Linked DNA regions of Homo sapiens. The protein of the gene in region 3 interacts with the protein of the main gene of each other region in a pairwise test. Each region holds a gene or a part of one and is shown on either strand. Other genes may lie near its edges. The genes, in order: EBP, DRC4, EHHADH, CAPN3, FGF14, OPRM1 and IKZF3.

What was found.
Region 1: the proteins of EHHADH (region 3) and EBP interact in binary tests that used the Homo sapiens proteins (3 or more experiments, as listed by UniProt).
Region 2: the proteins of EHHADH (region 3) and DRC4 interact in binary tests that used the Homo sapiens proteins (3 or more experiments, as listed by UniProt).
Region 4: the proteins of EHHADH (region 3) and CAPN3 interact in binary tests that used the Homo sapiens proteins (3 or more experiments, as listed by UniProt).
Region 5: the proteins of EHHADH (region 3) and FGF14 interact in binary tests that used the Homo sapiens proteins (3 or more experiments, as listed by UniProt).
Region 6: the proteins of EHHADH (region 3) and OPRM1 interact in binary tests that used the Homo sapiens proteins (3 or more experiments, as listed by UniProt).
Region 7: the proteins of EHHADH (region 3) and IKZF3 interact in binary tests that used the Homo sapiens proteins (3 or more experiments, as listed by UniProt).

The regions. Positions count from the first base shown.
Region 1 is NC_000023.11:48,524,808-48,527,011, reverse strand, and holds part of EBP (3-beta-hydroxysteroid-Delta(8),Delta(7)-isomerase), read right to left. Parts: intron 24-2,204; coding exon 1-23. UniProt on the Homo sapiens protein: Isomerase that catalyzes the conversion of Delta(8)-sterols to their corresponding Delta(7)-isomers a catalytic step in the postlanosterol biosynthesis of cholesterol.
Region 2 is NC_000016.10:90,042,120-90,046,155, reverse strand, and holds the end of DRC4 (dynein regulatory complex subunit 4), read right to left. Parts: intron 3,687-4,036; coding exon 3,621-3,686; intron 3,255-3,620; exon of another isoform or gene 2,961-3,254; coding exon 2,811-2,960; 3' UTR 1,196-2,810; downstream 1-1,195. UniProt on the Homo sapiens protein: Component of the nexin-dynein regulatory complex (N-DRC), a key regulator of ciliary/flagellar motility which maintains the alignment and integrity of the distal axoneme and regulates microtubule sliding in motile axonemes.
Region 3 is NC_000003.12:185,192,103-185,195,710, forward strand, and holds part of EHHADH (peroxisomal bifunctional enzyme), read right to left. Parts: intron 1,386-3,608; coding exon 124-1,385; 3' UTR 1-123. UniProt on the Homo sapiens protein: Peroxisomal trifunctional enzyme possessing 2-enoyl-CoA hydratase, 3-hydroxyacyl-CoA dehydrogenase, and delta 3, delta 2-enoyl-CoA isomerase activities. Catalyzes two of the four reactions of the long chain fatty acids peroxisomal beta-oxidation pathway.
Region 4 is NC_000015.10:42,357,248-42,362,339, reverse strand, and holds the start of CAPN3 (calpain-3), read right to left. Parts: upstream 2,840-5,092; 5' UTR 2,535-2,839; coding exon 2,226-2,534; intron 1-2,225. UniProt on the Homo sapiens protein: Calcium-regulated non-lysosomal thiol-protease. Proteolytically cleaves CTBP1 at 'His-409'. Mediates, with UTP25, the proteasome-independent degradation of p53/TP53.
Region 5 is NC_000013.11:101,724,321-101,728,965, forward strand, and holds part of FGF14 (fibroblast growth factor 14), read right to left. Parts: intron 2,491-4,645; coding exon 2,292-2,490; intron 1-2,291. UniProt on the Homo sapiens protein: Probably involved in nervous system development and function.
Region 6 is NC_000006.12:154,045,200-154,049,844, reverse strand, and holds part of OPRM1 (mu-type opioid receptor), read right to left. Parts: intron 1-4,645. UniProt on the Homo sapiens protein: Receptor for endogenous opioids such as beta-endorphin and endomorphin. Receptor for natural and synthetic opioids including morphine, heroin, DAMGO, fentanyl, etorphine, buprenorphin and methadone.
Region 7 is NC_000017.11:39,766,391-39,771,035, forward strand, and holds part of IKZF3 (zinc finger protein Aiolos), read right to left. Parts: intron 104-4,645; coding exon 1-103. UniProt on the Homo sapiens protein: Transcription factor that plays an important role in the regulation of lymphocyte differentiation. Plays an essential role in regulation of B-cell differentiation, proliferation and maturation to an effector state.

The DNA.
Region 1 (2,204 bases), on a different chromosome or scaffold from region 3:
GTCTCCCTTGGCATACTCTTTCCCTGAAGAAAAGAAGAGAGAGATATGAAGAATAAAGGCAGTGAAAGGAACACACACTTGTGAGAGCTGGGGGTCCCTGCAAGAAGACAGACTTCATAACCTTCCCATGCGTCTGCTTCCTCATCCGTGAAATGGGGTAACTGTTTGGATTCTAGTGGTTTATTTCTCTAAAACAAGGTAATATGTGTAAAGCCTGACACAAAACAGTGTGGCTGTGATTGGTACTCAAGAAGTGTGTGTGGTATAAAAGGAAGCAGGTGTAGATGATGGAGTGAGTGAAGTAGCCAATGAGAGAGAGAGAATGTAGGTGAACAGATGAGTGAATACAAGAGTGAGCAGAGAATCAGAAAGAAAAAGACCGCCGGGCACGATGGCTCATGCCTGTAATCCCAACACTTTGGGAGGCTGAGGTGGGATGATGGCTTGCATAAAGGAGTTCAAGACCAGTCTGAACAATATAGTGAGACCCCCAACTCTATAAAACATACAAAAATTAGCTGGACGTGGTGGCACGTGCCTACAGTCCCAGGCTGCAGTGGGAGGATGTCTTGAGCCCAGGAGGTTGAGGCTGCAGTGAGCTATGATAGCACCACAGTGCTCAGCCTGGACAACAGGGTAAGACCCTGTCTCAAAAAAAAAAAAAAAAAAGAAAGAAAGAAAAAGATCATCCAATATAAAATAGGCAGAAGACTTGAATAGGTTCTTCACAAAGAGGATTTCTAAATGGCCAATAAGTATATGAAAGATGTTCAAACTTCCATTAGTCACTAAGGAAAAGCAAATTAAAACCATAATGAGATATCACTCACATCTACTGGAATGACTAAAATTTAAGAAACATCTGACCAGCCGGGCACAATGGCTCATGCCTGTAATGTTTTTTTTTTTTTTTTTTTTTTTTGAGACGGAGCCTTGCTCTTATCGCTCAGGCTGGAGTGTGCAGTGGCGCAATCTCAGCTCACCACAACCTCCGCCTCCCAGGTCCCAGAGATTCTCCTGCCTCAGCCTCCTGAGTAGCTGGGATTACAGGCACCTGCCACCACGCCCAGCTAATTTTTAGACTTTTAGTAGAGACGGGGTTTCACTATGTTGGCCAGACTGGTCTCAAACTCCTGACCTCAGGTGATCTGCCCGCCTTCGCCTCACAAAGTGCTGGGATTACAGGCATGAGCCACTCTGCCCGGCCTTGTTTATAATGGCAGAAGATTGAGGGAAAATGCCCATCAATACTACACAAGTCAAGCAACTGTACAATGTCCATGCTTTGAAAGCTCTTTATGAAATCATGAGGAGTGACCTCATTAAAAAAAGCAGCTGGGTGCGGTGGCTCATGCTTGTAATCCTAGCACTTTGGGAGGCTGAGGTGGGCAGATCACTTGAAGCCAGGAGTTGGAGAACAGCCTGGGCAACAAAGCAAGACGCCATCTCTTAAAAAAAAAAGTTGTTAAAAAAAAAATAACTTGGTGGGGTGGCACATGCCTATAATCCCAGCTACTAGGGAGGCTGAGGCAGGAGGATTGCTTGATTGCCCAGGAGTTCAAGGTTGCAGTGAGCTATAATCATGCCACTGCACTCTAGCCTGGGTGACAGAGCGAGACCCCGTCTCAAAAAAGAAAATGGCTTCTTTGGTTTTCTTGTAAGGAAAGAAAGAAAAAGAGAAAAGATTAGAAGTATATATAGCATATTACCATTTGTGTAAAAAGGGAAAAGTGCAAATAATGATAATAATAGTGAACAGTTACATGGCAACCACTGTTTGCCAAACACTGTTCTAAGTATCTTACATATAGTTGGTTATTACTATTATCCTCCTTTTACAATTGAGCAAATTGAGACTTACGTGTGTAAATAAACTGAAAAGAAACATAAACAACTATCAACAGTGCCTAACAGCGTTTGGGGAAACTTAGTGGATAGAAAGCAGATTTTCACTGCAAATCTCTTTAAATGGTTTTTTGACCCACGTGAATATACATGCAACAAAAAAGTTAAATAAGGCTGGGCACGGTGGTGCGCACCTGTCATCCCAGAATTTTGGGAGGCTGAGGTGGAAGGATTGCTTGAGCCCAGGAGTTAAAGAACAGCCTGAGCAACATAGCAAGACCTTGTCTCTACAAAAAAGTGAAAATATTAGCCAGGCATAAAGGTGTGCACCTATAGTATAGTCCCAGCTACTGGGGAGG
Region 2 (4,036 bases), on a different chromosome or scaffold from region 3:
ACAGAGACTCATTACCCTCATGCACACACGCTATGTTTGTTGTTGTTGTTGTTGTTGAGACAGAGTTTCACTCTTCTTGCCCAGGCTAGAGTACAATGGCGTGGCATCAGCTCACCGCAACCTCCGCCTCCTGGGTTCAAGCGATTCTCCTGCCTCAGCCTCCCTAGTAGCTGGGATTACAGGCATGCACCACCACGCCAGCTAATTTTGTATTTGTAGTACAGACGGGGTTTCTCTACGTTGGTCAGGCTGGTCTCAAACTCCCGACCTCAGGTGATCCACCCACCTCGACCTCCCAAAGTGCTGGGATTACAGGCGTGAGCCACCACACCCAGCGTGCTATGCTCTTTTTCTTTTTTGAGATGGAGTCTCTCTGTTGCCCAGGATGGAGTGCAGTGGCACGATCTTGGCTCACTGCAGCCTCCACCTACCCAGTTCAAGCAATTCTTGGCCTCAGCCTCTCGAGTAGCTGGGATTACAAGCACCTGCCACCACCCCCGGCTAATTTTTGTATTTTTAGTAGAGACAGGGTTTCACCATCTTGGCCAGACTGATCTTGAACTCCTGACCTCGTGATCCACCCACCTTGGCCTCCCAAAGTGCTGGGATTACTGGTGTGAGCCACCTTGTTCGGGCCTGCTCTTTCTAATCACAGCAGAAGCGCACACTTTAAAGACCAGCTGGCAAGAATGATGGGAGGTTTTCCAGAAGTGACTATGGGCAAAGCCACGGTTATTCAGAACCCTGATAAGGGACCAGGGCACACAACACAGACGCTCCGTGGAGTTGGACAGGCCCACTCTGTGGGTGAAGGTTTGGTAGTTATTGACCCAGAAAGCCACACACTTTTTTTTTTTTTTTTTTTTTTTTTTTGAGATGGAGTCTCGCTCTGTCGCCCAGGCTGGAGTGCAGTGGCACGATCTCGGCTCACTACAGCCTCCGCCTCCTGGGTTCATGCCATTCTCCCGCCTCAGCCTCCCGAGTTGGGACTACAGGTGCCCGTGACCACGCCCAGCTAATTTTTTTGTGGTAGAGATGGGGTTTCACCGTGTTAACCAGGATGGTCTCGATACCCTGACCTCATGATCCGCCTGTCTCAGCCTCCCAAAGTGCTGGGATTACAGGTGTGAGCCACCACGCCCAGCCAGCCATACACAATATTTTAAGTGAAAACCACAGGTTATAAAACAATACAAATAGTATAATCCACTTTATAAGTTTTTAAACAAATATACTTATGCATAGAGAAAATCTGGAAAAATATATGCCAGCTATAAAGTGGTTCTTGCTCATGGGATAAATTGTGGGAGACTTTTTCCCTTTTTGCTTCTCTGTGTTGTGATTTCCTAAAGACAGGGCAGTGGTGTCCCTAGACTGCTCTGGAACTGCAGGACCTAACAGCCTCACTGTGTCTGCTCACCCAAGTCTGACAGGTGGCAGGGCAGTGTCTGAGGCCCACTGGGATGCAGACCCAGGAAAGCTGGGGTGGGGGGCTTCTGGTCCCCATCTCTGCAGCCTCATCCTCTCCCCAGCTACACAGACCCAGATGGTCACTGTCCTGGACCAGATGAAGGCAGGCACCTACAAGCTCACCTTCGACACTGAGGGCTACTGGAGGAAGAGGGGGCAGGAAAGCTTCTACCCACATGTGGAGGTGAGAGCCCCAGTGGGCTGGAGGGGGCTGAGGCTCATGACTCACTGGGATCTGCAGGCCAGGTCCTGCTGGCCGGGCATCATTTAGGCAGTGGGCAGACTGGTCCTGGGCGGTGGCAGGTAGGTGAGCTCACTTGCTTTGAGCTCCCAAAAGAAAGGTGTCCAGGCAGCAATAGACTCTACGAGGACACACCCGTCACTCACCTGCCCAGGGTCAGGCTTTGTGGGGAGGCTGGGCCAAGGGTGATTCATCCCCTCTTTGTTGACAGAGGTTTTCATCTGAGCCAACTCCAGCTCTCTGGGCCTAACCTCACTGCCTCACCCCACACTGGAGCCGCCGCAGAAGCGCCTGACTTACTGGGCTGTGGCTTCTGTGGAGTGTCCCTCTGGTGCGGAAGGTTCACCCCATCCCAGACCCTCAGTCTGGGCTGCTGAATTCTCTCAGGTGTGTTGGGGCCAGATAGGTGGTTTGCTGCTATCCCCTTATACTCTCTCCTGGCCTCTCCATCTCAGGTTGTTTTAACCATCACCAGCAAGGCCCAGAAGTTCCACGTGCCCCTGGTCCTACATCACCTACCGAGGGAGTTAGAGCGAAGACTGGCAGCGGGAGGCTGCCTGCCCGTTCCCGCACGCTGGCTGCACCCACCCAGCCCTCAACAGAGCGGGCTTTGTGCTCATCAGGGAGCATTGGCTCACCACTTCCTAGGGAAGTCCCGGCCCCCTGGAGAATCCCACTGGGCAGCTGTGACTCAGGTGTCAATGAAGTTAGTGCCAGCACCTGCAAAGCTGTCCATTCGGTGGGACAACAGTGGCGCGAAGACAGGCAGCACAGCGCGGCACTGCCCCAACCCCCAGGTGAGTGCGGGGCACTCTGAGAAGGTGCCGCCGACTGTGGTCGGAGGTGAGACCAGGGAGTAGGCCTGGACACAGGCTGGACGTGCGGCACCCAGGGAAGGGAGCGACAGGGACACCATGGGTGAGGGTCCTGCAGGTGGTTCTCCTCCACAGAGCCAGGAAAGAGGATGGCAAGAACATGTGAAAAGCTTTCATTTGCTGATGATAAAATCTAAAAAACTTGCTGTCCTTGGTGTGATAAGGGGTGTCATCCCGAGTGTTCCTAGGCTGGTTCTCTGGGCTGTGGCCCCCCAGGGGGGCAGCTACGTCGGGGTGCCCACCAGTCCCGCGGGGCCCTGGCCCAGTGTCTGTCCGATCACAGCTGTTTCCAAGGGCTTGAAGCCCACGTTGTCCAGAGGGATCCCGAAGGCCAGCAGCTTTGCCTCATACGTGCGCAGCAGGTCGTTATGGGCCTGTGGAGACAGGGCAGTGTCAGGGAGCTGAGGGTCCCCACGCTCAGGACCACCAGAGCTGAGTGCAGCTCCATGGAGGGGCAGCGTGAGCATCACGGTGCAGAAGGATAAAGCCAAAGGCTTATCAGTCATTTCCCGTGTGGGACACAGCTCCAAGCACCTTCACTGCGTTGGCTCAGGTAGCACGACAGGGAGAGGCTGTCACTATTCCTATTCCACAAATGACGAGACGGAGGCAGAGGGCAGGGACACTCAGGGCAGAGCTGTGGTCTGGGAGGGCTCTGGGCCCTGGCTGGGTGTTTCCCACTCAGGTTCTTCACGCCCTCCCTTCCCCTGTTGAATGACGTCTGTTTCCTTCCCCGGTGGGCACAGCACCTTCTGACTCCCTGCCCAGGGGAAGGGGCTGACCAGGGAAGCGTCCAGGTCCCCCCCTACACCCATCCCAGCAGAGACATGGCCTAGACAGCAGTGCACTGCCCCAGACCACACAGAATCCAGATGCTCTCGGCTATGACTGCACCCTCACGTGGGGACAGTGACAGCTGCCTTGTCAAACGAGGTACGAAGTGGGCACAGGTGGGGTCCTCAGAGACCGTCTGCATTTAGAACAGTCTGGGCACCGAGGGGGTGCCCCTGAGGGAGGGCAGGGCACAGCCGTACCTTACAGACCTGGGCCAGCTCATACTGCAGGTCCTTGATGGTGCTGTTCTTCGACTCAAGAACATCCTGAGGAGAGAGAGGTGATGGGAGTTTGAGACTCATCTTTTGGCCGAGGCAACGGGAGCGGCCTGGGGACTCCAGTGGGCGTTCTGAGAGATCCAGCGAATAGCAGCCTGGTTTGATGGATGCATCCATCCACACAGGGTTGTCAGCAGAAAAAGGTCTCCAAGGGTGGAGAGAAAACAAGGAAGAAGCAGAGAACTGGGAGCTTGCACAACCTGCCTCTCCAGCAACAGTCCAGGCCAGGCACTGCCGCTCACACCTGTGATCCCAGCAGTGTGGGAGGCCAAGGAGGGCAGATCACTTGAGGTCAGGAGTTTGAGACCAGCCTGGCCAACGTGGCGAAACCCCGTCTC
Region 3 (3,608 bases):
AATGATTATTTATTTTGCTTTGTATTTCAGAACAATCTTACTTTGGATTTTTGATTTAATTTCACTGAAATTCAGTCAGCATTACCTGATGCTAGCATGTGAGGCATAATCTGGAAGACTGAATCACAATTTACTGCTAGGGGAGCCTGCCAAGCTTTGCCATTCTTTCAGGGGAGGGTTTCCCTGAGAAGCCAGTTTTTTTAGATAGTCACTTGGCTCCAGTTGGGGAATATCAGGGTTCTGCCTGTAATATTTCTGCAATTTCTCTAGAACTGTGGGCAACCCAACTGTGGAAGCATAGAACATGGGCCCGCCCTTGTGCCTTGGCCATCCATATCCATGTAAATAGACAACATCAATGTGCTCTGGGCTAGCAGCTATCCCTTCTCCCAAGATACGGAATGCTTCATTGATAAGTGAATATAAGCAGCGTTCAAGGATCTCATCCTGGCTAATGGTACGTGGTTCAATGTGATGGGTTTTTCTATACCGTGATAGGAATTTGGAAAGCCAGGGATCAGGTTTGTGAATCCTACCCAATGGCTTGTCATATTGATACCAACCCTTACCTGTCTTCTGGCCAAATCGTCCTAATTCACAGAGCACATCAGGAATTGGGCAGTACCTCCTATTACCCCTTTTTCGGGCAGGAGTTCCTGGAAGCAATGTAGGTCCAGTAAGACCTTGCCCCTTTCTAGATTTCCAGCCCACATCCAACCCAGCAAGATCAGACACTCTAAAAGGTCCCATTTTAAAACCAAACTCTTCCAGCACCTGATCTACCTCCTCTGGTTTGCTGCCTTCTTCTAACAAGAAATATGCCTGATTGTAGTAAGGATTCAACATTCGATTCCCCACAAATCCAAAACAGTTGCCTACAACGACTCCAATCTTTTTAATCTTTTTTGATAAGTTCATAACAGTGGCAATGGTAGTGGGGGAAGAGTATTGGCTGGGAATAACCTCTAACAACTTCATGACATGAGCTGGCGAAAAGAAGTGGGTGCCAATGACCAAGTGAGGACGATCAGTGGAAGAAGCAATCTCATCAACATCCAGGGCTGAAGTATTAGTGCACAAAAATGCTTCTGGTTTGCACACAGCTGAGAGTTCAGCAAAGACCTGCTTCTTCAGGCTCATTTCCTCAAATACTGCTTCAATGACTAAATCTACACCACCAAGCTCCTTCACAGATGAAGTTAACCTGGGTTTTGGTCCTGACCAAGGGTGGCCGCTCTGTTGCATTTTGGAGGCTTCTTTTTCCAAGACAGAGGTTATCATCTTGTTTGCAGTTGCTAGCTGGTTTTTGTCCGAGTCTACAGCAATCACAGGAATCCTGGCCCTTGCAAAAGAAATGACAATGCCTCGGCCCATTGTTCCCAAGCCTGCAGATAAAAATCAAAGGAGAAAAAGAATGATTCAGTGGTATTGGGAACTGATAAATTATTCACTGGATGGAAGGCTTATGTGACAATGTGGCATTTAAAGAGATTGAGTCAAGAAACACAAATGGATTGAGTACTAGTTAAGACTCTGCACTCTCTTAAGTGTTTCAGAGGATATAAAAATTAGTCAGATTCACACACACAAATAGAAGCTATACAAACTAATAAATGAGTCCAACGAGATTGTAGGTACACAATTGATATACAAAAATCAAGTATATTTCTATATATTAGAAATAAACAATCTGAATATAAAATTAAAAGAAACAATTCTACTTACAATAGCATCAAAAAGAATAATACACAGGAAGAAATTTAACAAAGAATAGGAGGATTTGTACACTAAAAAGTACAAAACATTGTTAATAGAAATTAAGTAAGACCAAATAAATGGAAAAACATTAAATGTTTTTGTATCAGACAACTTAATATTGTTAAGGTGGTAATACTACCCAAATTGATGTGAAGAACCAACACAATTCCTATAAAAATCCCAGCTGGTTTTTTGCAGAATCAATAAGCTGATCCTAAAATTCACATAGAAATGCAAGAAATCCAGAAGAGCCAAAACAATACTGAAAAAGAACAAAGTTGGAGGATTCACTCTTCCCAATTTCAAATTGTATGACAAAACTATTCAAGGTTGGGTGAGGTGGCTCGTGCCTGTAATCCCAGCACTTTGGGAGGCCAAGGTGAGAGGATCACTTGGAACCAGGAGTTTGAGACCAGCCCAGGCAACACAGTGAGACTCCAACTCTATAAAAAATTAAAAATTAGCCAGGGGGCCAGGTGCAATGGCTCACACTTGTAATCCCAGCACTCTGGGAGGCCGAGGTGGGCAGATCACCTGAGGTCAGGATTTCAAGACCAGCCTGACCAACATGGAGAAAACCCGTCTCTACTAAAAATACAAAATCAGCTGGGTGTGGTGGTGCATGCCTGTAATCCCCACTACTTGGGAGGCTGAGGCAGGAGAATCACTTGAACCCAGGTGGCAGAGGTTGCAGTGAGCCAAGATCGCACCATTGCACTCCAGCCTGGGCAACAAGATTGAAACTCTGTAACAACAACAACAACAACAACAACAACAACAACAACAAAAATTAGCCAGGCATGATGGTGCATGCCTATAGTCACAGCTATTTGGGAAGCTGAAGCAGGAGGATATCTTGAGCCCAGGAGTTTGAGGATTGCAGTGAGCTATGATCACACTACTGCACTCCAGCCTATGTGACAGAGTGAGACCCTGTCTCAAAAAAAAAAAAAAAAAAAAAAAAAAAAGAAGCCTATAGTATTTAAGACAGTGTAAGATAGTGGTCATTGCAAAAGGATAGACATATAGATTAGCAGAATAGAACTGATAGCCAAAAGCAAACCCACACAATTATGGCCAATTGATTTTTAACAAGAGTGCCAAGAACATTCAACAGAGAAAGTATAGTCTTTTCAACAAATGATGCTGGGACAACTGGATATCCACATGCAAAAGAATGAAGTTGGACCCTTACCTCACACCATATACAAAACTAACTCAAAATGGATCATAGGCCTAAATGTAAGAGCTAAAACTATAAAATTCTTAGAAGCAGATCTTAGGAGTAAGTCTGATGGATGGATACATCTTTGTGATCTTGAATTAGGCAATGGTTTCTAAGACATGACACCCAAAGCACAAGCAACACATGGGTAATAATCACATGAAAAAGTGTTCAACATCAATAGTCATTAAGGGAATGCAAATCAAAACCACAGTGAGATAATGCTTCAAACCCACTAGGATTGCAATAATGAAAAAGACAGACAATAACAAATTTTGGTGAGGATTTGGAGAAATTAGAACTCTGATACATTGCTGGCAAATTTTTTAAATGGTACAGTTGCTGCAAAAAACAGTTTAGCAGTTACTCAAAATGTTAAACATGGAGTTACTTTATGATCCAGCAATTCCACTGATATCTAAATCTCCAAGAGAACTGAAAATACATGTCCACATAAAGCTTGTACATGAATGTTCAGTAGCAGCATTATTCAAAATAGCCAAATGCAGCCATAAAAAAGAATAAAATCACACACTTGCAACAACATAGATGCAGCTGGAGGCCATTATCCTAAGCAAATTAACACAGAAACAGAAAACCAAATACTGCATGCTCTCACTTATAA
Region 4 (5,092 bases), on a different chromosome or scaffold from region 3:
GTCCACCAATGATTTCACTGAAAACAGTATTTGTAGGTTTTAATTTTCCCCATTCTGAGAAAGAGCTTTTATTTTTTTAAACTTTTTTTATAGAGATAGGGTCTCACTATGTTGCCCAGGCTGGTCTCCAACTCCTGAGCTCAATTGATGCTCCCACCTCTGCCTCCCAAAGTGCTAGGATTACAGGCATGAGCCTCCATGTCTGGCCCAAGAAAGGGCTTTTAGGAACTCCCTGCCTGGGAACGCAGGCCTATCCTGTCTCACTGGTCAAGGCCCTTGGGCGTGGGTTTTCACTCACCAGCATCAGCTGAGTACCCACTATGGGACTGGCCTGAGCTTGGTGAGGGGGCCTCAAAGATGAACAGGAAGGATTTCTGCTCTCAGTGAGAGGAAATCAGTCATGAGAAAGATTGAAGGAAGTGACACCTGAGCAGAGGTTCAGATAGGAACAAAAAAGGCATGTCAGGCAGACAGACAGCATGAGCAAAGGCCTCCGGTGTGAGAAGACTTGGAACTACAGAGCAGCTAAATGTCCAAGCACTGCTGGTGTGTCAGGATCTGGGGAAAGAGGATGGACATGGGCCTGGACAGGTAGGCAGGGACCAGCTGAGAAGGGCCTATGGCTTGGCTAAGGAGTTTGGACTTGTCCTGAAGGCAGTGGGGGCCGAGAGAGGGATGTCACTGAAGATATTTCAGCAGGGGGTTGTGACATGTCCAACTACTCTGATAGCAGAGTAGTGTTATCTTCTAAACTGAAGGCCTTCAGGACAGTTATGGGCCTTACCATAGAACCAAGAAGAGCCCCTATGGAATATACAGGGTTGTCTAGTACTCCACCTCAGGTTTGTTGTTGTTATTGTTGTTGTTTGAGACTGGGTCTCACTCCTGTCACCCAGCCTGGAGTGCAGTGGCATGATCTCGGCTCACTGCTGCCTCAACTCCCCGAGTTCAAGTGATCTTCCCACCTCAGCCTCTGAGTAGCTAGGACCACAGGCATGTGCCACCATGCCTGGATAATTTTTTGAATTTTTAGTACAAAAGAGATAGGTTTTCACCCTGTTGCCCAGGCTGGTCTCTAACTCTTGGGCTCAAGCAATCCTCCAGCCTGGGCCTTCCAAAATGCTGGGTTTATAGGCATGAGCCACCATGCCTGGCCCACCTTAGGTTAAAGAAAACCATGGCTAATCAATAGTATTGGGTCTCAGCTTGTCATCATTTCCTCAGAGAGGGTTTGTCTCCCTGGACCAGGTTAGCTCTCCTTGCCACATGATCCTGTGGCACCCAGAACATCGTCTCCTGACAATGTCACTCTTGTTCAATGCCCATCTTCCCTTCAGGACCCTAGGTTCCAAGACAGCTGGAATTTTGGTCTTTCTTACTCACTGCTGTCCCCCCAGTTGCTTGCCCAGTGCTGGCACTAGTAGATGCTCAATAAATATTTCTCGAATTAAGAACAAGAGTCACACTGGAGGGATGATCAGAGAGGTGAGCCAGGGGAATGTGATTTCCCTCCTGGCGATCACTGTAAATGAAACCCAGAGGCTGGGAGAGTTTCCTAAAACAGAAAGTTTTAATCCGGGCTCTGTCATGTGCCCACTAGATATATTTCACTCTAGTGTGCCTTGACTCCTCACTTATGAGGTGAGGTAGGTGGACAAAAGCGATTGCTAGGTCTCTCTCTCTTTAACCCCAACATTTTATGCATGAAAAAATATTCCTTGCCTATGACTCTTCTCTTTCTAGGGTTTCTGTGTTTCAGAAAGATATGGCCATTGGTAAATTAAAGAAGAATAACATCATGATTTTAGCCAGAGAAACTGAAATAATCTTACAAAGATGAATAATATTTAAAACGAACAGGTACATCTGGGCTGTCTGGAATTTGTTCTGAGAAAGGAATATTTATTTTTACAGGATGAATTAAACTGAGTTCCACCCACTTTTATAAAAAGCAAGATTTTTTTTTTTTTTTCAGAGAGAAAGAGCCAGAGCATAAGAATCAGCCCCACCTCCTGCGCTCTCCCTCTGGATTTTGCTGAGATTTGGTGAAATATCTGAGACCTGTTCCTCTCCTCCCTGCTTCACACTTAAAGACAGAGCCCAGCAGAGCTGCTGCCAGGATCCTTCCCCCAGTGCCCATGTGCACAGCTGAGCTGCCGGAGGTGCTGAGTGAGAGGACTCCTCCGTGGGGGGAAAACCCAGCCAGCAAGCAGGAAGCTACTCACCGGAGGTCTCTTCCAGACGAACTGGATGGGGAACTTCTGGCTATAAAAGAGAGAGGTCTCATCCGGTGGGAACTCAGGGTCCACATAAAGAACTTTCTTTTCTAGACATTTCTTGTGAAGTTGCTCGAATGTCTTCTCTTTCACTCCGATAATAGGAAAATTGCGGCTGATGATGGCTGAATAGATGCCACTTGGGTTTCCACCCCCAGCCTCAGTGGCCTTGCTCTGGGCCGGGTGAGGAACTGGCCCTGGGGACCGGGGCTCAGCCGCTGTCCTTGGAGCCACAGATGCGCTAATGACGGTCGGCATGGCAAGTGGCTTTGGAAGAAAAAGCTTTTTAAAGAAAATAAGATACAGCTACCTTCAAGGAAAGGAAGCAACTGCAAAGGGGAAGTTGGAGTAATTCTGTCATCTGAGAGAAAAGTGTCCACATCCAGTTCAAAGTTGAAAGCCCATCAGAAGGTCGTACAGGTTATGTCCATCTTAAAAACCGAGCTGTGATTCTGAAGCCATAAGTTCTCCTGAGAAATGAGTGCTAAAGGATTTCTGAAGCAATGTTGACTTGGGGGTCTCCTACCAGCAGCATGCATGCCAGAGGGAGAGAGAAAGAGAGTGAGGGTTGTGTTTCAGTGGCCTGAAGATGCTTGAGCCAGGAAAACTAAAAATAGATGTGAAGAAACACTGTGAGTATGAGAGCAAGAGAGACTGCATGGTAGAGAGAGAACCTGGCTAGGGACATTTCTGTTGCCATGAAGTGCTGGTGTTGCCAGAAAATGAAAAGGGAGTATCTGAGTAAGGTGAACACTGGAAAGAAGCTGAGAACTGCTGACATGTTATTGAGTAGGCAGTTATACAGACCACCCAACTACTGGCCATCAAATGAATGGAAAACAATATTGCAAAAAAGCTAGTTAGGGTGAACGGGAGGTACTGAATTCTACAAAAATATTCTGTGAATTTTAGAGAACATGATTTTTAGTCCTAAAATTTTAGGATATCAGAACATTATTCAATGTTAGATTTGGTATCTTTTTTAGAATGTTCTTGGGTCAGCGCTCATTGGAAATGTCTGCATGGAAAATGCTACTCAGCAGAGTCCTCATTTGAGAAAATCCCTGTCTCTACCTGCACACTTGACCTTGCCACCTCTTGTCTCTCCCCATCCACAAAATGAACACTGGGACTGAATCTGCTAAAAAGTGGTCCTGCTGGGCCATGTGGCTCACGTCTCTAATCTCTGCACTTTGGGAGGCCGAGGCGGGTGGATCACATGAGGTCAGGAGTTCGAGACCAGCATGGCCAACAATAGTGAAACCCTGTCTCTACTAAAAATACAAAAATAAGCCGGGTGTGGCGGCGGGTGCCTGTAATCCCAGCTACTTGGGAGGCTGAGACAGAAGAATTGCTTGAACCCAGGAGGCAGAGGTTGTAGTGAACCCAGATCACGCCACTGCACTCCAGCCCAGGTGACAGAAAGAGACTCCGTCTTAAAAAAAAAAAAAAGTGCACCTGAGCAGAGAAAATCCTCACTTAACATCATCGATAGGTTCTCGTAAGCTGTGACTTTAAGCAAAATGATGTACTGTATAGTGAAACCAGGCTAACTGATATAAACAAGAGTTAAGTCCCTACAGCACACGGTATGTTTTCGTTAAAGTCACAGTTTACAAGCACCTATCAATGATGTTAAGTGAGGACTTACTGTACAGGTTATATGTTGACTCATTCAGCCATGCCACATTAGGCATCTGAGACAGAAGTTGGAATTAGATACTGAACCAGACTGTCTGTCAACTCCTGGGATGTCACACCTGGTTTCAGGGCTCTTAGATGAGAGCATAAGTGGCTCTGGGGAAGGGAAGTGCCTGCCTGGCCTCCACCTTGTCTTCTACCCACAATAGCTGCTCCCTGGGCTGTAAGGAGATGAGCACATTTCAAGTATGGCAGAGTGGAGGCATGTCCTAGGCTGCAGTCATGCCTGTTCCCATGCGACCAGTCTCAATAATCCAAGATTAGAGGCTATGGAAGAAGGTGGGAAGTGACAGGTAAAATAGGGAGTACTATCAGCCTCCTGATCCCTGGGATTGCGGCTTTGAAGGACTCTATGTCTGGGCTTGCAGGAACCATCAGCCTAGCCATCTGTCCCTCCAAGAAAATGCCCAGGGCTTTTTACTAGTCTTGGAGAGGCAGAATAGAGGACAGTGGTCTCTGGTGACTGACCACCTCGGTTCAAAGTCTAGGTTGGCCCCTTATTGGCTGTGCCTGTGTAACTTTAGGTGAGTTATTTCTTCCTTTCTGTCTCAGATTTCTCACCTATAAAATAGGTACAATTACAGTCATTCTGTTATTAGGTTTTGGTAACAATTAAATAATTTATGTAATACATTTTACACAGTGCCAGGATTTTCTTAAGCACTCAATAAATGGTGTTGTTAGAGAAGACCTGAATTTAATATTACTTTGGAGTTAGATCAGGTCGAATGCTACATTTACTCGCTGACGCAAATCAGCATCCACTCAATGGGCATTAACTGAATATCTGCTATGTGGACAGCACAGGAATAGGTATAATCTGCCCAGGCTCATGTGGTATGCAGCATCTCCAATCAGAAGCTGGCCTATCTGCCTGCAACAAAAAGACTGACTTCCACCCTCAAAGTCACCAGTGGCATAGACAGCAAAGGTGGGGTTTCTTTCCCCCACTGTCATAAGTTTGGGTCCCAGCCTAGCATTCTATCCCACCCTGAAATTCAGAGCACTGACCCACACTGTATTGTTTTTGCTTATTTAACTTCCCGTTTGCCCATAAGACCGTGGAGCTGGGAAGTGGGTTCCCATTTCCCTCTCAGGTTTAGAAGGCCCTTAAT
Region 5 (4,645 bases), on a different chromosome or scaffold from region 3:
TCTCAGCAAACTATCTCAAGGACAAAAAACCAAACACCACATGTTCTCACTCATAGGTGGGAACTGAACAATGAGAACACTTGGACACAGGAAGGGGAACATCACACACACGGGCCTGTTGTGGGGTGGGGGGATGGGGGAGGGATAGCATTAGGAGATATACCTAATGTAAATGACAAGTTACTGGGTGCAGCACACCAACATGGCACATGTATACATATGTCACAAACCTGCACGTTGTGCACATGTACCCTAGAACTTAAAGTATAATAATAAAATATATATATATATATATATATATATATATATATAAAACAAAGATATGAATGCCCTAGAGTACCAATAATTAACCAGGTACTTAATTTGTCAAACATTTCCAATAACATTATTTATATTCGGTATGGGTTTTGAAAGTTTGAAATTAATTTTCCTCTATCAAGTAAACAATGTGATAATCTCTGTCGTTATAGTACCTACCCCCTTAACTGTTTTTAGAGTACTTCTGCTAATTTTTTGAAAACATAAAAAGTATTATTTCTCTCTTTCTCATATATATATATGTATATATACACACAAAACACTCATATACACATAACAAATACATGAGTGAAATACCAAGTATCATTCTATACCACATCATTGTTGTCTCAGATATTTTCTATGAGATATGCAAAATAACTGGTTCCCAAATTTTACCTCGGTTAAATGACATAACAGCCCTTTTGGGTTTTGTTACATTTATGCAGCTAAAGGGTAAGGTTCTAAAAATCTAGTCAATTCTTAACTATTTACAAAACATAAAATGAGTGAAAAGAGATAAAGCACGGTGGCAAATAAACAATGGTCTTATTAGAGCTTCTGTGGGCTTATTTTTTAATTTTTTATTTGCATTTAAATATAGGTGAGTCCAATGTTATCAAAATTTATTTAAAACAATGAAAGTGTATCATGGATGTGTTTTTTTTGGGAGGAACAGGGAAATCCTCTAACTTCTTTCTACTCTAATCATCCTTATGATCCACCATATACTGAGAATAATTCACTCATATTTCAGACTCTGGAATAATCTGTCTTTTCCTGTATAGGCCCTGGTAGCTAACTGTTTGGGTTTCAATAAATTGTTCTACAGAAAAATATAATTAAGAGTGACACTAAGTCAACATCATTGAAATTACAGAAGTAGTATTAGCCAACAAGAGCGATTTTCTGAATTTAGGCAAATTGAAAATTATACACTCACAGATGATGAAGAATTGACTGTTCAAATTTTTAAATTATTTTATTTCAATATAGAGAATATGCATTATGAAAACAATATGCATTTTCTCGTGATGGCTAAGCCTTTCCTGTAGGAATAAAACACAAAAAGAAAATTGAGCTGTCCAAGCTAGCTTAAAATATTTACTGAGTTATTGTAGATCTGATCTTCTGCAAAAGAGTAAACAAAAGAACTTGAATAGAAACACATGTGAATATCCTAAAATCAAATATTTTTGTAATTCTCAAATGTTACATAGATAAAAGTAAATGACACTTTTGGCAGAATCATTAATGAGAGAGGTGCAGATGTTGTTGATTAATTAAAAAAACTTTGTAGCCTGCTCTTTGGGTATCTGATTGGAGTAAATGTGAAATTTCCATTCATCCGGCATGGATGACTGGATATACCCCTTCCTGCACACAAATGAATGTGGATAAATTATTTTAGTAAAAGAAGTAATGCTACAAATGTATACAGTGAAGAATTACACAATTTGAAAGCAGATGTGTAATATCAGCAAGTTCTTTAAGAGTCAAGCTATTATCTCTTATTTTTCTGTAATTATAATAATCCACAAGTAGGTAATTACTTTCACCTAGATAATATCAAAATGGAAAATACTTTTGATTCCACGCTCAAAACTTATTTTTTCTAATATACTTATTATCTTTTTCTAATATACTTATCATCGCAGATTTGTATCATTACAGATTTAAAATTGTTTTAACTTAATTAATTTAAATTATCTAAGGGTTAGAGTGGTTGTAGCAGTGAGGATTTGAGCCTTTGGAGGTGGCAGAGAAGAAATTTTTCCTGGTACACATACATACACAAATATAGTAAAGTGTATAAGGGGCACAAATTCTAAATCAATAACTTAAGTAGGCACCTGTGCAACCATCACCTAGATCAAAATAAATGACATTTCCAGCACTTTGTGAAGGTTTCTTAGAGCCATGGTAGACCTATCAATTTGAAAAATAAAATATGTAATAAGTCTATGTAATAATAATGCATGCATAATACTCACCTTCCAATGGCTTGGGTAGAAAATGAGCTGCTGGTTTGGTTTTCTTTACTCTGTTCCCTTTCATAGCTTGCCCTTCCTTATTTAATCCCAAAAACCAGGCTCTACCAGATTCCTGTTGTCTGTACAACATGGATGAGTAGATTACATAATAATTTTCAAAAACAGATTCTTTAAACTTGCATTCAGGGGTAAAAAGTTCCTGTGGAGAGAAAATGAAACAAAAGTTAGAGGAAGGAACTTGATCTTCACTGTACATTCTACTCATTCTCTAGAAAGTTTCCCAGCATGGTGAAAGAGTGCTTTGGCATGGAGGACCGGATATACCCCTTCCTGCGCACAGTAATTGTCTATACATTTTTAAAATATACAATAAATTGAGAAGAACCTACTATTATTGAAAATATATAGAAGCAAAAGTATATCATAAGAAAACAATACATGAGCAAACTAAAGATTTAACTTAAACAGAAGACAATTCAACCAGAGTATAATCAGAAAGGGAGCATTAAAGTAGCATCAGATATTCACAATAAAGTGAACCAAATAAAATACACATTTCAGATATTTTATAATCCATTTTACATGTTTCCATAGGAACAGTGATATAATACTCTACAGTTGCCAGTTGCTCCTTGGATCACTGAAATCACAGGGTGATACATTTTACTTACAAAGGAACAAACTGAAACCTCAAACTAAAACTTAGACAATCAGCTGGCTTACTTGCCAGCCACTAGAGCTATTGTATAACCAGATGAGGTTAGGTGTCATGTTAGCTGGTCATAGTGACAGTAGCTGAAAATAATTCAATGGGGCTCCAAAGGTTTGAGTCCCGTTGGAACTCTTGAAGATAAACATCAAAAGCTGCTCCAACTGAAAAACCACACAGCATTTTTGGAAAGCATACAGTTTGTTAAATACTATTATGCTCAATGCCATGGTCTGCATTAATTGATGAGCAGCACAAAGCTTACTACTTTACAATTATTATTAATGTCAGAAATATTCACAGATGATTTTTATATACTTCTTACTTTGGGATGAATAATAATGAATATAATCCCATGCCAAATAAATAAAAAATTAATAAGGGTACAATCTACATATGCATTTTTGATAGCCCTCTATTAAAAATAAATTTGAAGTTCAACCTGTCTGGTTATAGACCATGAAAGACACCTAGCTAGTTTTAAATAGGTCCAACACTGTGCTATTCTATATGTATATAAAATATAGATGGAAAATAGATCCTTACTGTCCTTGATCTTTTTGAAAATACCACTGGACTAAAAAATATACACAAAGTTTTCATTTTTCTTTAATAGATTTTATTATTGCAGAAAATAATAATTTTTGGTTTTCTTCTAAAAATGTTGTATACCTGTTCTGAAAAATATTCCTTAGGGGCTAAAAACTAAAACATTAAGGGCTTGACTTTATGCTAACTGTAATTAGGAATGTGACCTAATGTCATGTAGAAATTTCCTTTCAATATTCCCCATAAAAGTGTGAATTATCAAATGCTGTCTCATGCAGGAGACAATTTATTCAGTGTGCTGAATAACTTTCATTCACTGAGAGCTAATAGTTTTCCAAGGGGAACAGCCTTTGTTAGTGGCAGATGCTTTTCAAGACAAAGATGACAGTTACAGTGATCAATTTGATGAAATCACAATAGCCAAATGACAGGTTTAGCCCCCTCCTGGAGCAACTTATGTAGATCTTTATTTCTTCTTGATGATGCTACCTCAGATTAGAATAAGATCCCATCCAAATAAATGTTCTGGCTTTCTACTGAGTTCTGCATCTCCATATATCCTCCAATTAGTTTTCTCACTAATAAATGAGAGTCCACTGAGTCAATGTCCAGGCCATGCGCCCGAAAAAAAAGATTGATAAAACAGTACATGTTCATGCATTTATTGTGAGTAAAACAAAATGGAATGCTATAAATCTGGCTTCTCCCCAAGAGACTAATAAATATATTGGTTGAAACTATACTTTCTCAAACAAAAGGATTAGACTTTGGCATTTCACTTGTCTTTTTACTGAGACAGGGCAGGGCACCTAAGCATATTGCTTACCAGTTAAAAACCTATCTCAAAATCAGCTATGAGTGACATGCTGAGAGCTGACTTAGTGGGTCACTTAGTGGAAGTCAGGGGAATCTGGCTCTGCCTCCTGGGCTTCGGGTGTCTCTGCCCAGAACCTGGCTCACTGATGCTCATCCTGTTGCTACAAACACCAGAAACGTAGGTCCACAGGATTCTCTTCTGATCGTCACTGCCATAATGTCCAAAACATGAATGGTGCTTGCAACACCATCAGCAACTTAGGGATGTATTGTCTCCATT
Region 6 (4,645 bases), on a different chromosome or scaffold from region 3:
GGGATGCAAGGATGGTTCAACATATGCAAATCAATCAATGCGCTGTATATATTTTAAATTTGTGTGATGTGGTTGGGTATCTGGTGACTCATGAGTGAGTTATATGGGAATCCATTTTGTTTTCAAACGATTCTACCTGATTATAATAAAACATACAACTTGTCATCATGTCATGAATTTGCTACCATATTTAATTTGGAACATAGCTTCCTGATTTTCTTCTTTACTAGTGTTTCAAAAATATTTCCTTGAGGAACATTTTATATATATTTGATTCTCATTATTTGAGGATTCTGTATTTGAAAATTGGCCTCTTCACTAAAATCTATTAATATTTACCCGCAAAATAATACTTGGCTTTTGCAGTCATTTGAGGACCTGTGTGGACATGTATAGAGCAGCAAAAAATTTGAGTTGCTCTCTGTGCAGGTTCCCAGGTAAGGTCAAACAAGGCAATGCTCTGCTGTCTTCTTTCAGCTTGTACTATAAACACGTGTCCTTTTCACAATCTATTTATTGCCACATTTTTCACATTTCTGTGTTTTTTTGTTGTTGTTGTTGGTGGTGGTGGTGACTTCACTGTTTAAAATGGTCTCAAACATAGTGTGGAAGTTCTGCTTAGTGTCCCTAAGCCAAGAAGACTGTGATGTGGCTTATGAGGAAAGTACTTGTGTTACAGAAGCTTTGTTCAGGCATGATTTATAGTGCTGTTAACCATGAGTTCAACGTTAGTGAATCAGCTATATATTAAATAAAGCGTCTTTAAACAGAAACACACATAAAACAAGGTTACGAATGCATTAGCTGATGAAAATTTTATAATCAGAGGCTCACAGGAACCTGCCCTATATATCCCCTAGAAGCAAAGCTTCAGTACTCACGAATTCTGTAGTCATAATGACTTTATGGACCATAACTATCATGAATAATGGGAATTGACTATATTAACTTTTTATGTTTTTACTTCTTCAAATTTTACTTTCTGAGTTTTTATTATAAGAGTAACCATATATTCCCTTTTTAAAGTTTGTAAACTCAGGAATATATGCATATATAGACATGTATGTGTTTGTATTTGAATTTATGATTTGCTAATATGTATCTATGGTACAGATCACTTTTCATGACTCAAGTGATAAAAGCTAAATATGCATGAACAAAGTGAATTGAGAAAATTATTTAAATTAGATTTTATACTTGAATAATTTGAGGTACATCTGAATTGCTAATAGCTTAGAATTGTACAGTATTTTGAAGATATTCAGTTCTGTTGGTCAACTTTGAATGTTGGATTTCTCACCTAAACACAAAGAGATAGATATAGTTCAAGTCTTTAAGTTTTATCAAGTGACATTTTATAAGGCCATGAGAAAATGCATAATTTTTTTTTAACAATGGTAGCATGTATTTTGGGTTATATTGCAGGGAAATTGGTTGTAGGAGTACTTTGGAGAGGCTGTAAGAAAGGATGGATTTAAGTTGATACTTGAAGAACAAGAAACATTTTGATAGGAAAAGAATGAGAGATACGTTACAGGAAAACAGAGAGAAAGAAAAATAAAGGAAACAGTATAGAAGAGATAAACATGAAGCATATTGGAAGATAGTGAAGGAATCAGGTTGGCCTAATTTACGTAAACGTTAATTTAAATCACACTAATGGTTTTCAGTGAATATGAGTGGTTAATATTTGAATCACTTAGGACACCTACTGTAAACTGAATGTGTTCCCCTCAAATTCACATGTTGAAAACCTATTCCCCAGTGTGATGGTATTTGGAGGTGGGGCCTTTGGGAGGTGATTAGGTCATGAGAGCAGAGCCATTATGAACACTATTAATGCCCTTATGAAAGAGGCCCTAGAGAGCTTCCTTGCCTCTTTGCCTTGTGGAGAAATGGGGAGAAGTTAGTTGTCTCTGCAAGAAGGTCCTCAGCAAATGCAGAATCTGCTGGTGCTTTCATCATGAACTCCTCAAGCCTCCAGCACTGTAAGAGTAAATTTCTGTAGTTTGTAAGCCACCCAGGCTATGGTACTTTGTTATAGCAGCCTGAACACACGAAGACACCTACTTACATACAGTGCATAAGCTAACATATTATTTAAAACAAACAAAAAACAAACAAACAAAAATTGTACTTAACAACATTTTTGCCTGGACAGACACATATCCAGAACAGAATGATCTCTCTCTCATTTAAACCCATCACACACTTCATCTTATGGGAAAGCCCTATCCATTGGTTTACGAAAGTTCACTTGATTAGATTTGGTGGAACCTCTTTGCATCAGATTTGGAATACAACATCCAGGATAGGACTAATACCTAAAGGCAAATATTAAAACCATCTCCTAAAAATTAAACAGAGAATGAGAGACAGAGAGAGAGAGAGAGAGAGAGAGAGAGAATTTTGCCCACGCTCCACCTTTGCCAGTCACGCTTTTAGGTTATGCGTTCCTAACCCTTAAGGAGGCAGCACATACTCTGACTCACTGTTTTTCATTCCTTGTCTTTCCCCATCTTGCACCCAGGCCCTCAGGTACACAAAACAGCAGGACCTTTTGCTTGGGCCTCCCAGTGCAGTAAGAAGATGACTTTTCCCTCTCCTTCCTGCATTTCTGCTCAAACATGTGATGCTCACCTGGTGGCTTCTGTGGGGTGGGGGTGGGGGGAATGAAACATGATGGGGTTGCACCTTTTCCCACTTAACCACTTGCCTGTACTCTCGAAGCATATGAATAAAGGCTTGACTGTAACTTTCTGTTTCCCTTATTGTCCTAATCATAAACACCACACCTGGCAGTTCAGAGCACACTCACTCTTTCTCCCTTTGACAGAACCTATTTGAGCTTATATAGAATCCAAAGGGCTGTGATGGAATGGCAACCACGATTGTTTAGTTTTGTGGATGATTCCTCTTTTCCTCCAGATTGTATTGCTGGGAAAAACATGCTCTTAATAGTCATTGAAGTTGCCATAGGACATTTTAGTACTAGAAAGCGTTTAAGATTTTTTTAGTCCAATTCGCACCTTTTTACAGATAAGGAGAGTGAGGCGCAGAGTGCCTTGAAGTCGAGCCACAACTGACACTTGGGGCCCTGAGCCAGGGCAAGGTTTCTCTTCCTTGCTGTTCTTCCTTTCTAAATTTGTATCTGAGAAATTGATGGGGAAAGAAAAAAAGTTACCTGAGGCAAGAAAGGATGGGTAAAGAAAGGAGTTGCTTGGTAAGCTCAGTATATGATGCTTGTTGTATATGACGTTTCCTGCATTTGATGCTTCAGCTCACTTTTGAAGACTGAAATTTTCTTGAGCTCAATTAATCACAAGATACTCTTAACGTTACTATATAACATGAAATTAATGGAAAAGGGAGTGGCAGGATTTTTTGTTTGTTTGTTTTCTTATACCCTCAGATAATTTGCCAGAAGGCACAGGAGGCTTTATTTCCTTTACATGGCACACACAATTCTGCTCCTATTATCCTGAGCTCAAGAAGAAGTAAACTGAACACTGGACATGACTGGTGCCCACTCTCTCTCCATTCAGCCAAACCTACCCAAAAAAGCCTTTCCTAAATCCCAAGGCAGGAACAAAAATGGAAGGAAAAGCTTAGCTTCTGAACTCTCTTGGTAGTTCTAACTGGTGCTGCCTATCAGAATTTTTCTTACGAGTTTTTGATAGTTAAGAGAAAACCTTTATTGATAGGTCTGTAAGAGCTCTATTTATTAAACAGATTTTACTGTGCTAACGTATAGTCACCAATTATAAAATAACAGGAAGGATATTCAGCAGAGTGTGAGATACGACCTTGTGTGAAGGTGAACCATTTTGAAAAGTGGTTGCTTGGCAAGGAGTGGGAAACTAGAAGAGTAAACCAGGGAAGAGGAAAACGAGGCATGTTTTTGAGACGGTCACAATGTGGGCGGGGCCTTCTGATGTGCCTTGTAGTTGGCACCTCAGAATTGTACACCTCAGGAGAGAGGGGAGCAAGGGCAGCATTTTTCCACAGGCTTCCATTTCCTGGTCAAGGGAACTTTCCTGAACTTCCAAATAGTGCCTTTGTGAGTGCCAGGCTGATTCCTATGGAGGGCAATTACTCCAGTAGAGAAGCCCTAGGGCAGAAAGTAAGTGATTTAGATGCAGCCAAGGTGAAGTGTTACTCAGTTATGTCTGGAAACTGACTGCCATATCAACGGCTGAGGTAGAAGGCGAGGTGAAGGACATGAGGTGGGCACGAGAAGGATATGAAACAACGTGAAAGCCATTGCTTTCAAATTTTGCCTGGTGGAGCCCTAGAAATTCTATGGTGGTCCCTTGGGGACAGCACTGGTGGGTGGCATGGGGGTGCAAGGTGAGCAGTGCTCTTGGTCTCAACATGTGGTTACATCTGGACAGTTGTTCTGTGATCTGTTTTATATATTGGGTCCCAAGTTCTTGAAATAAGTGTCTACATCTAAAAACAAGTTTGAAGACTGCTGTCACAGATAATTATTTCAGTCAGATAAACATTAAACTTAGTGAGGACTAAAGACTTGGAATTCTTGTATTTTAAAATGACATGCACCATTTAGTCTTGGTATTTACCCCTAGTACTTTTTTTTTTAATTTATTTTTTTTGTTTGAGTCGGAGTCCCACTGTGTTGCAC
Region 7 (4,645 bases), on a different chromosome or scaffold from region 3:
TTATTGATGGCTTGGTCCATCATGCGGGTCTGTATGAGCTCACTCTCTTTCTCATACATGTAACTTGAATTATAGTTGACATCAAAGCAGTGGCGCTTCTCACCTGGAACAAGTGACAGAAAGGGTTACAAAGGGAACACTGCCAAGGCAGAGAGTTTGTAAATATTTTCTAGAGACCTCAAAAAGGGAGGAGAGTTAAGTTGCCTGCTGCTCAAGAAGACCAAGCCTGGCAGAATGGTTTCCCATGGTGCTGTCTCAGGGGACACTGGTCGGCAGCAACGTGTTTGGATGGTTAAAATAAAGCCAGCAGGCAGAAGAGAGGGGCAGAGATGTGGTTCAGTTGAGGCCACATGGTAAGGTATGCCCACTGTGCATGTTAGAGGAGAGCCCTCAAGAAAGGAGGGAAAGAAGCAGGACACTAGGATGGGGCTAGAGGGACAAGGGAGCCACCAGCCCACAGGAGCCTGGGACTTCTGCTATAGTTCATGATCTCTTAAGACACAGTCGGCTCCCAACTCTTATTTTGCTTTTGCTTGTTATTTTCTGCTTGCAATATTAGGTAGCCAGGGGGACAGAAGTGCTGCAAAGAGTGGGGACACTCGGTGCCTCACCTCGGCAGCTTTTTAAATAGCTACAGAGATAGAGAAAATAGCCCCCCAGACTCCAACTGGCTACTCCCCAAACTCACCCGTCCTGGCTGACTGAGACTGAAGTGAAAGAGCTTCAAATGTAGAAAGTTTGAGAAAAGTTTTCTTGAGAAGAGATCATGGTCTTTGTCCCTTTCCTAACGTGTGTTTCTCTTCCTTTGCTTGGCAAGTGTATCTCTGATACACATGTGATCATTAGGGCCTATCTCACACTTAACTGAAAAAATATACTTGTGGTCACCCTCTCCTACTTCTCATGTCAAACTGCTGAGAAGTTTTGAAAACAGAGTTTAGCCACCTTCAGAGTGTGTGGGTGTTGTGTGTTAGAAAACAGAGGCTCTCTGGTCACAGGGAAGGCAGGGATGGGGACTGCAGTGAGGGCAGATGTGCTCAGTGGTGAGTGGTGGGGAGAGGGGAGAGAAAGCGAGGAAGTGGAGCCGAGTGCTGGAGGTGAGGCTGAGGTCACTGTTGAGCCTCTCCATTCTGTCAGCTTGGATCCTGGAGGGATTTGCTAAACCATATCCTTCTATAATGTTTCCTAGTCATGTTGAGATTCCAAAATTTGTCACTGCCCTACAGTAAAGGGTTCAGCAATGAAAATAAAGAAGAAGAAGAAAAAATGCCATGAGAAAACAAAAGGATTGGAAGAACCAGTTCCTGTTCTTGAGGTGTCTCCAACCTAGTGGATGAGAAATAAGACCTATATATATATAGAACTCGAGAAAAAGTATAAGTTAAAAGTTGGCCGGGCGCGGTGGCTCAGGCCTGTAATCCTAGCACTTTGGGAGGCTGAGGAGGGAGGATCACTTGAGCCCAGGAGTTCGAGACCAGCCCGGGCAACATGGAGGAACCTTGTCTCTACAAAAAAATACAAAAATTAGCCAGGCATCTGTAGTCCCAGCTACTCAGGAGGCTGAGGTGGGAGGATCACCTGAGCCTGGGAGGCAGAGATTGTAGTGAGCTGAGATGGCACCACTGCACTCCAGCCTGGGTGGCAGAGTAAGACCTTGTCTCAAAAAAAAAAGTTGTAAAAGGACTGCTTTGCTCTATGGAGGTCTTTGCTTTTATTCTAAATGCCCACATTTGAGGCATTTAGGCAGGGAAGTAACGTGTTCTTTAAAAAGAATAATAAGGTAACATACAGGCATCGGTGAGACAATTTGGTATAAATTGTATATTTAGGCATTAAGGGAATGCAGAAACTTCAGAAGTACTTGGGGAAGGGAAAGCATTCTTGGAAAATCTAAATTTTGAGAAGGGTCTTGAACTGGAAGAATTTAGATTTTCAGAGAAGCGGGAGAGGACATCCTAGTTGAGGGGGAGTGCAGGAATGAAGGCAGAGAGGTGGGACTACACGGGACGTGTGCAGAAAGCGAGTCTGGCTGAAACGCGATCAAGAAGTATGAAATACAGTATTTCTCAGGCTTCACTCTTCCTTCACATTCTGCAATATCCACACACCAGGGCAGTGTGGTGGTTGAGAGAATAAACTCTGGTGTCAGATGGGCTGGGTTTGATGCTGGCTCCATTGGTCACCAGTTTTGTGACCTTGGGCAAGTCACTTAACCTATGTTCCGTGTCCTCATGTAAAGTGAAGATAATTGTATGTACCTCACAGGGTCACTGGAAAGCACTTAGAACAGGGCCTGCCACATGGAAAACACTTGGTAAATGCTTGGGTTTTTTTCCTCTGTTTGATTTGGTTCACATTTTCTTTCTTTTTTTCTTTTTCTAAAATAAATGTGGTTTTTAAGGAAACTTTATATCACTAACATAAACGGAAAACCAGAATCACTTTCCACAAGTAGAAGGTAACTATGAAAAATAAAGACAATGAAACAGAGCATTTCATTAAATTTTGATCGGATACTACTGTGAGTACTTGGAGACTAAGATCCCTTCCCCCTTTGTTAAAAACAGAGATTACCAAGTGTGAGATTAGTGTTAAAGACAACTGGCATCAAATTAAGTCTAAATTTTTCTCCTTAGTATGATCCAGGAGACTGAAAGAGAACTGGAAAGAAAATAATTATCCTGCTGTGTGGACCCAGGTTTTTAAATGCTCCATGTGCTTGCTGGCAATTTGCATCCTACATTTGGGGAAACACTGAAAAAAGATAATGCATGGTAGGACCGAATGGTGGGCATTCCGAATGGCCCACTGTAGGGTGTGAATCCGAACCAAGAGCCAAGGCTACCTGCCCTTGAGAAAGACAGGTTTGTGGTTAACGTAACAGCAATGTGTAAGGCAGACCAGAACAGTGAGAAATTGGAGCCAGAAGAACCAGCTAAAAGATCTATTCCCATGAGATGAATTTGTCTTTGCATCCCCACAAGCAGCTGACCTTAAGGCCAACCTGATAGTTTCCAGAGAAATACCTGAGAGAGAAAAAAAATATGCAAACGAAAATACCCTGTCTTGGAAACTCAATGAGAAGCAACAGCAGAGTAGACCTTGGCCAAAGTAATCAATGTTTTTTATTTTCAGTTTCCAGATTGGATATATCTTTGGTCAAGGCCATCTGGAAGACTGAGAACATGAGAGCCAGCTAAGGTCACAGACATTCATTCCCTAGAATGTGACACAGAAATGATGAACTTCGGTTTCTTGGCCTTTTTAAGGTTATTGGTTATTTTCCACTGTGGCCACCTCTATTCATCTCCCTAAATACCAGGGGTCCTTGAGAAACTTTTTCTCTTTTCACCCAACAGAGAGGCTCCAGAAGGTTTCTGGGTGGGGTAGGCACATCACAAACTCTGATTTTATCCTTTCTCCTAAGAGTTTGCTTTACTTAACAAGGCCTACAATTTCACAATCTATACCACCTGCAGCATATGTCAGAAAACAGCTGAGTGCTAAAATTGTAAAAGGCAAAACATTAAGAGGAAGATAAACCCCTGGATGAGTGGAAATATGTGACTGAATTCTGTAGTTAACACAGACCATTGTTCATTGTTAAGGAGATGGGGCAGCCTCAGATGTTCACGTGCATGCAACTTGCAATCATCAGATCCCCTCGTCTCTGAGTTACGGTAACTTGAGCAGTGCAGATGATTATCAGTCACCTGTAGACACGATGACTCAATGTGTATGAAACCCAGAAAGGGTAAACTACAGTAATTGAAAAGCCAACAGCTCACGTTTCTTTAGTAACACACTCATAAAAAAGGTTAGTCAAACCACAAAAGTGTAACTGCTTCCAAACCTGCACGGAGCATCTGGTCCAGCTTCTAGTCAAAATCACACCACGCCTTTGAATGATTCATGATACCAGCTTCAGGCTGAATTAGAGGTCTTCTTCCAACAAAAATACACACGGCAACAGCAAGTCCTAAGTTTAGAAACTAAGGCTGCCTGGTTGGGCCATTCCCTACCTGTGGTTCTTTTTAAAGGTGTCAATGTCTTATATCTTGGCTTTGTTAACTCTAAACTAAGAAACCACCTGACCTGAACTGATGCAATGTGGTGAGGACATATGGTTGTTGGCTTCTAAGTGCCAACTTGGAAGTACAGAATCACAGGCTAGAGCTAAAAGGGCCCTTAACTGAGCAAGTGGATTCAGAACTCTGTCTGCAGGGTTGAGGGGGAAGACCCACCACCCTAATATGTTTACTTCTGGTCTTTATATTTCACAGTACCTTGCACTGTGCCTTATATACAATAATCCCAATAATGATAAGTACTATTTATTGAGCCCCTGCTGTATCCACCGTGCCATCCTAGATACTTTGCATACTGTCTCATTTTACCAGCCCATTAGGGGTTGATACTTTTTTTTTTTTTTTGAGACAGAGTCTTGCTCTGTCACCCAGGATGGAGTGCAATGGTACGATCTCGACTCACTGCAACCTCCGTCTCCTGGGTTCAAGTGATTCTCTTGCCTCAGCCTCCCAAGTGTCTGGGACTACAGGCACGTGCCACTATGCCTGGCTAATTTTTGTATGATACCTTTTAAGGTATGAATTATCATCTCTTAGATGAAGAACCTAAAGCACAA